Homo sapiens: one gene and its partner. The protein of the gene in region 2 purifies or fractionates together with the protein of the main gene of each other region. This does not show direct contact. Each region holds a gene or a part of one and is shown on either strand. Other genes may lie near its edges.

Region 1 (3,500 bases), on a different chromosome or scaffold from region 2:
GCGCTCCTCCTGGGTCTTGGCCAGCTGCTGCATGCGCAGGAAGTGGCGGGCAGCCCCCATCTCCAGCACGGTGACCATGGCAGGGTGGGTGTCCAGTCGGAGGGTCACCTGTGAGCAAAGCCCGGGGTTGAGGGTGATAGAGGTTCCCAATGTGAGAGGGCTGGCAGGATCTTACCAGGGGTGAAGGTCACCCAGACCACGAGGTAGCAGGCGGGGTCTCAAGGACTCCCCTGGACCAGCGCTGCTCCCTCCCCATTACCCACTAACTTGTGGGCCCTGAGCTGATGCCCCACGCAAAGATACTGTGCCCGAGGGGCTCCACCACCCTGGTGCCCCGCTGCTGCCTCCAGGAGCTGCCCGAATCCATCGTCCTCTGCTCCATGCCAGCCCACCCTGCATGAGGCCCCTTCCTCCAAGTGACCATGCATGGGACGCTCATTTCTCACTCTGAGCTAGACAGGTTGGTGGGGGGAGTCTTAGCTCTCTGAAGCCCACCCAAAACCCCCGACTAAGCACCCAAGTGAGCATGTGAGCTCCTGAGGGCTGGGGTAGCATGTCCCTTGTTTGGAACCCCCACGTCCTCAGCCATTGCAGCTCCCACTCAGGATGCTGGTTTTTCAGTTCTCAGTTCACACCTGCTCTGGAGCAGGGCTGGGAGAAAGACACGGCCTTCCTGCCTCAGCGGCACTCCCGAGCAACACGTGCCGAGCAGGGACCCACAGGGTCTCCACCTGACACCAAGGGCTTCTGCTGCTGCTGGAAGGACACCCAACGGGCCAGGTACTGGGAGCCACCAGCTGGCCAGCCTGTTAGGGACACTGCGGCCAAGTGGTGGTCCATCCCCGGGAAAGCCTCACCTTCACGTTGGTGACACGCGACCCCAGCACATTTCTCATCCAGGCCATGAGCTCCTCCGTCTCCTTCTCTGATAGGCACTCGGCGGCTGCGGAAGAGCAGGCGACAGGGAGCTCAGGCCTGCATCCCAACTCCCCGGCTTCCATGGGGGCCACGCAGCATGCTTCCAGCTCCCACCTCCTCTCCCACCAGGATGGAGACACAAGCTAGCAAGATGCTTTTCATCTAAAAGTAAAACCTCAAAGGATGCTTCAGGTTGCCTGAGGCCCATACAACTTGGTTAGGGCTTTAAAAAAATACACAGCCTCTCAAGAAGCTGGGCCAGCTCCAGAAGCCACCGTGGCAGGAGCACTGGACAGACCCCTGATATCTAAACCAGGAGGCACCTTCCTCCAGTCACCAGGGTGCTCCCACAAGGCTCTTCTCGGGGGTGGCTGAGCCCAGGTCAACTGACGAAAACCCAAAGGAAGCCCTCGCTGCGGGGCAGGAGAGGCGTGCGGGGAGTGGAAACCAGCCCCACGCCTAGAGAGCAGGGGATGCCGACCTGGGGACCTGTCCTCAAACTTCTCCTCCTTGTAGTGATCCACGACTATGTCCGTCTCCACAGAGATCAGCTTCTTCTTGTCAAACTCACGAAGGTGCAGCAGGGTGAGCTCATCAAACTGCTCAAAGCAGAAGAGAACCTGCAGGTGGCCAAGAGCAGCTCCATCAGACCCCGGGGGCCTCCAGCCACCACAGAAGAAAGGATGAGGGCGGCAGGAGGGCTGGGGGAGCCAAGCGGGCCACACTGGGGAACACCGGGGCAGTTGGGGTTCCTAGGCCTGCATGACAGTTACTACGACACCTGGGTCTAAGGAAGGCTCTGACTGCCTTCAAGGCAGAAGCACTCCACGCATAAAGAAATCCACATGTGGCTGAGTGCAGTGGCTCACGCCTGTAATCCCAGCACTTTGGGAGGCCAAAGCAGGCAGATCATGAGGTCAGGAGTTCGAGACCAACATGGTGAAATGCCGTCTCTATTAAAAATACAAAAATTTGCTGGGTGTGGTGGTGTGCACCTGTAGTCCCAGCTACTCAGGAGGCTGAGGCAGGAGAATGACCTGAACCCAGGAGGCGGAAGTTGCAGTGAGCCGAGATCGCACCACTGCACTCTAGCCTGGGCGAGAGAGCAAGACTCCATCTCAAAAAAACAAAAAACAAACAAAAAAAACCACATGTGACCTCCAAGTGGGAAACAGCCGTCACAGTCGGTCCGGCCTCTGTGCCCGTGACCCTGACCCACTGTGCAGCCCTGCCCGGAGTCTTGGGCAGGTTCACCCAGCACAGAGCTGAGAAGGTCAAGACCCTCCCCAGGTTGCAGCCCCCGGAGCCCGCCCCACCCACCGCTCACCCACCTCTGTGTCTTTCTTCTTCATGGCCTCATAGTAGGGTGAGTGCTCTGCCAGGTGACGGTTGGGGGCGCACAGGTAGTAGATGTTGCGGGTGCCGGCCCGCATGCGGCTGGCGTATTCTGAGAGGCTGGTTAGCTGCCCGGAGGGCAGCGCCGAGGACTCGTAGCGCAGCAGCTTTGCTATGTCCTCCTAGAAGGGACGGGGCAGGTCACCACTTATTCCAGGCCCATGGGCTCAATGTTGCCCAACTAACTGGGCGCAAACCCTCCGATGCCCATGGCCTCCTGGCACTCCAGGCTGGCCCTGACCCGAGGGACGGTAGTGGACTCGGGGGTTGTCCGAGAGCAGGCCTTGCTCTGCCCATCAGGCCCCTTTTGGGAGCTCTGGGGGCTTAGGAAGCACCTCCTGCCCCAGGTGGCCCAGGGGCTCTCCAGGGAGCTACGCGCACCACGCCCTGGGAGGGGACCCCACCCAACAGCAGAGCCCGGCCTGGACCCAGCGTCTTCCCTCTGCCCTCAGTGACAGAGTCAGTCTCTGGTGGGCACACGGACACGGGTGAAGTCCACGGTTCCCGGCCCTCCTCACAGCTGGCTATGGCAGAGACTGGCTTTGCCCAGTGGGTTTCAGTGGGATTTGGAGAAGGGCCCTTAGGGGAGGGGTTTGCCCTCCTCCCCATCAGCTGAACGCAGCTGTGACCTCTAGAGCTCATGGGAGCTGCAGCTGGAAGGACGCAGGGGGAAAACAGAAAGAGGGAAAAGCAAGGAGCTGGACACCCAACCAGCAGGGCCCAGGCCACCCCTGCACACATGGTGGGTCTGCATTGATAAGACATGTCACACGTGCACACCTACAAAGACCTAGAAATGTCTCTGACTCTTACCTGTGTGCTGTTAACTCAAATGAAGATAAAGGAGAATGAAGAGGCCTGTGTCAGAAGCTGCCGAAGTCGGCAAACAACCAGAACACGGCCTCCTTGGGACCCCACACACGTGGTCACCCTCCTCCTGCTGCTGGGGAGAAGGGACACCAGCACGGGATGGGCTCCTGGGATGAAATGTTCTGGGGTTACAGTGGAGGCAGCCACACCACACTGTGAATGCACTAAATGCCACTGAATTTTACGTGTTAAAAGGTGAATTCTGTGAATCTGATGCTATGTAAGTTGTATCTCAATAAAAAATGGACAAAAAATGTTTATGGAACAAATGTTTCGTTTTTCAGCCATCCACTATTGGATTAACTGAACGACTGGCC
Region 2 (3,500 bases):
AGGAAGATTCCAACATGATATTGAAACATATATACACACTGTGTATCTGCATTCCAAACCTGGCCAGAAGTAGTCAACCAATAGCCGATCTTTTTAACTCTAGAGGAAAGGTTGGCAAACTACAGACCATGAGCCAGATCCAGCTTGCTGCCTGTTTTTGTACATAAAGTTTTACTGAAACACAGCTATGCCTCTTCCTGTACGTATTGCCTGTGGCTGCTTTCCTGCCACAAGGACTGGGGTGGGTAGTTACTGCAGAGACCATCAGACTGACAAAGCCTAAAATACTATTAGGCCTTTTACAGAAAATTTTGGCTCTGCCCTGCTCTAGGGCCCTGAACCTCAGTTAACTCTACCCTCTTTAACCTCAGTTCATGAAATAGTATACGACTAGAAGCTCTACGTTTATATTTAACTTCTATTTGGGAAGTTTTTGTAAGAGTAGATAGAGTTCTGTTTTTCTGAGTATGATTTGGATATGTAGGAATTGTTTGTTTAGTAACTTCCCTATTTCTTATCCAGATCCTGTCCCTGGAGGCTGTAATTTGGAGTTCGATTTAGATATTGATCCCAACATTTACTTGGAGTATAATTTCTTTGAAACGACTATCAAGTTTGCCCCAGCAAACCTAGGCTATGCGAGGTACGTCTGTCTCCCATGTCTGAGAAATGCTTTTAGAATATACATGACGACAGTTGTGTAGATTTGACCAGCTCTCTCAAGTCCCTAATTCTCTGTAGTAAAATTGAGTTAATTTTTGGGGGGAATTGATGTAATTTAAACTTCACTATTAATATTTGGACTGTCATTTACAGTTAATATTTTCCCACTTCATTCTTGTGAACTCTTTTTATTTGAAGAGCCAGATGTGAGTCTATTATGAGCTTGAAAATACATCCTGGTTTTTATAAAGCACTTTAAATATAGATAGCACTCAGTAGCCCTGAAACATCCTTTTATTTTTATAAAGATTCATTGTTTTAATTAAAGCTGTGCCTCAGTTTCTGCTTTAATAGTAATGATAGCTAACATTTGAGAACACTTGAATGCTTCCTGTGCATTGTCCGTGGTGCTGAGTGTTGTTATGTTCTTTGCCATTTAATCCTAACAATTTTATGAAGAAGGGCAATTGCTGTTATTTTACAGAAAGTTTCCCTAGGGGTTATGGAGGTTACCCTACTTGCTAACAAATGACAAATCTGCTATATTCTTCTTCTTTTTTTTTTTTTTAAATCAAAGATGAGGTCTTTCTATGTTGCCCTGGCTGGTCTTGAACTTCTTAGCTCAAGCAATCCTCCTGCTTCAGCCTCCCAAAGTGCTGGGATTACAGGCATAAGCCACTGCACCCAGCTTTTTTTTAAAAAAAATTTTTTTGCCTCCCCAGAGCTGTAGTATTTTACTCTAGGCCTGACTGATATCAGAATCCAGTTATGTAATCACCTTTGCCTGTTGGTGTTTGTCTTAGTTTGTGGTGCTGTAACAAAGTAGCACAGACTGGGTGGCTTATAAACTTCTTTCTCATGGTTCTAGAGGGTAGAAGTCCACGATCAGGATGCCAGCACAGTTGAGTTCTGGTGAAGGTTCTCGTCCAGGTTACAGACTGCTGGGTTGTCATTGTGTCCACACATGACAGAAAGAAGGCTAGAGGGCTCTCTGGGATCTCCTTTATGAGGGCAGTAATTCGATTCATTAGGGCTTCACCTTCATGACCTAATTACCTTCCAAAGGTCCCACCTCCTAATATCATCACACTGGGAGTGAGGGTCTCAGCATATTAATTTTGGGGAGACACAAACATTCAGTCCATAACAGTGCATTACTTTTCTTCAGAATACCAATTGTTGCCACTGCAAAAGGTGAACTGTTAAATTGTAATTATTGTTGCAAGTGTTTGAAATTAGGGCTCTTGGTTCCTTTTTATAGATGGGACTTGCACCACAAGAGACTGATGTTTCATTTTGTTGGTTGACTTTAGAGGCGTAGATCCCCCACCATGTGACGCTGGGACAGACCAGGACTCCAGGTGGAGGTTGCAGTATGATGTCTATCAGTATTTTCTGCCTGAGAATGACCTCACTGAGGAGATGTTGCTGAAGCATCTGCAGAGGATGGTCAGTGTGCCCCAGGTGAAGGCCAGTGCTCTCAAGGTAAATCTGAGTCCCATGATTTGTGTGGCTGGATTGTGACACCTTTGTCAGAGTTGAGAAGGGGAGAAGCTACCAGGATCTTATTTCTTTACTCTTTTCTCCTTTTTGGGGGACACTCACTTTATTCTCTTTTGTTATCATCTTGGGAGTCTTTGCTGGTGATATCTCAAAATGATGTTGGCCTTTGAGGAGATGCATGTAAATTATGTTACGTTTTAGTTGCAGCCACATCTGTGACTTGGTAATCTGAAATGTGAATGGAAGGAGGTGGTAATTTTCTGTGTACTCCCACGACTACTGGGTAAACATTTTTGGCAAGTATGAAGATTACATTGTTTTGAGAAAAAAATAATGAGAAACTGCTTAAGGATATACACATTGGCATTCATATTTGAACCCAAACTCAAAGTCTAACTTGGAGTAAAATTCTTCTCTGAGCTTTTGAATCCATGTAAACCCTTGCTCCCCAGGTGTGGACCATGGACCAGTGGCATTGGCATCACTGGGGAGTTTGTGAGAATTGTAATTCTTAAACTCCACCCTGGAACTACTGAATCAGAATTTGCATTTTATATCCCTCAGGTGATTCTGACTGGGTGCAGTGGCTCACGCCTGTAATCCCAGCACTTTGGGAGGCCGAGGCGGGTGGATCACCTGAGGTCAGGAGTTTGAGACCAGCCTGTCCAACATGGTGAAACCGTGTCTCTACTAAAAATACAAAAATTAGCCAGGCATGTTGGTAGATGCCTGTAATACCAGCTACTTGGGAGGCTGAGGCAGGAGAATTGTTTGAACCCAGGAGGTGGAGGTTGCAATGAGCCCAGATGGTGCTGTTGCACTCCAGCCCTCAGGTGATTTTTATGCATATTAAATTTTGAGACTCACTGCAATAGATCATTTTTGTGGAGGGCAGGATTTTATCTTTATGTCTTGAAAAGTGCCTAACAGCAATATAATATATGAGGTCATCCTTCAGTCTAATGGTTGATGGGTGGAGTTTTTCTAGACAGCGTCATTGTGCTTATTCACAAAATAAGAAGCTCTGTTAGTAAAGTTTATTAGTTGCTTTATTAGATATGACATTTTAATACTATTATTATTTTTATGAAGAATATAAGAACTTGTATAATAGGCTTTTTGTAGGTTACTTTTAAACTTTTAGTTAAAAGAATATTTTGTACCAGAATGTGGGGAAACCCTCAAAGACTAATGAGGGTATGTCAAAGAGATTCAGGAGCCTGTTTGAAGGGGCTTGCACTGCCAAATTTGGGGCAGTTCAAGAATCAAGAAAAAGACTGTGGTTGTCAGCCTTGAATAAATACAAATGAAACCTTCCTCAGTTGCCACCACTG

What was found. The genes of interacting proteins can lie anywhere in the genome.
Region 1: the proteins of TM7SF3 (region 2) and TRAP1 fractionate together in Homo sapiens (co-fractionation; one large-scale study listed by BioGRID). This does not show direct contact.

What each region holds. Positions count from the first base shown.
Region 1 is NC_000016.10:3,662,025-3,665,524, forward strand, and holds part of TRAP1 (heat shock protein 75 kDa, mitochondrial isoform 1 precursor), read right to left. Parts: intron 3,438-3,500; exon of another isoform or gene 2,436-3,437; coding exon 2,250-2,435; exon of another isoform or gene 1,539-2,249; coding exon 1,400-1,538; exon of another isoform or gene 944-1,399; coding exon 858-943; exon of another isoform or gene 622-857; intron 109-621; coding exon 1-108.
Region 2 is NC_000012.12:26,993,885-26,997,384, reverse strand, and holds part of TM7SF3 (transmembrane 7 superfamily member 3 precursor), read left to right. Parts: intron 1-522; coding exon 523-643; intron 644-1,976; coding exon 1,977-2,148; intron 2,149-3,500. UniProt on the Homo sapiens protein: Involved in the inhibition of cytokine-induced death of pancreatic beta cells. Involved in the promotion of insulin secretion from pancreatic beta cells.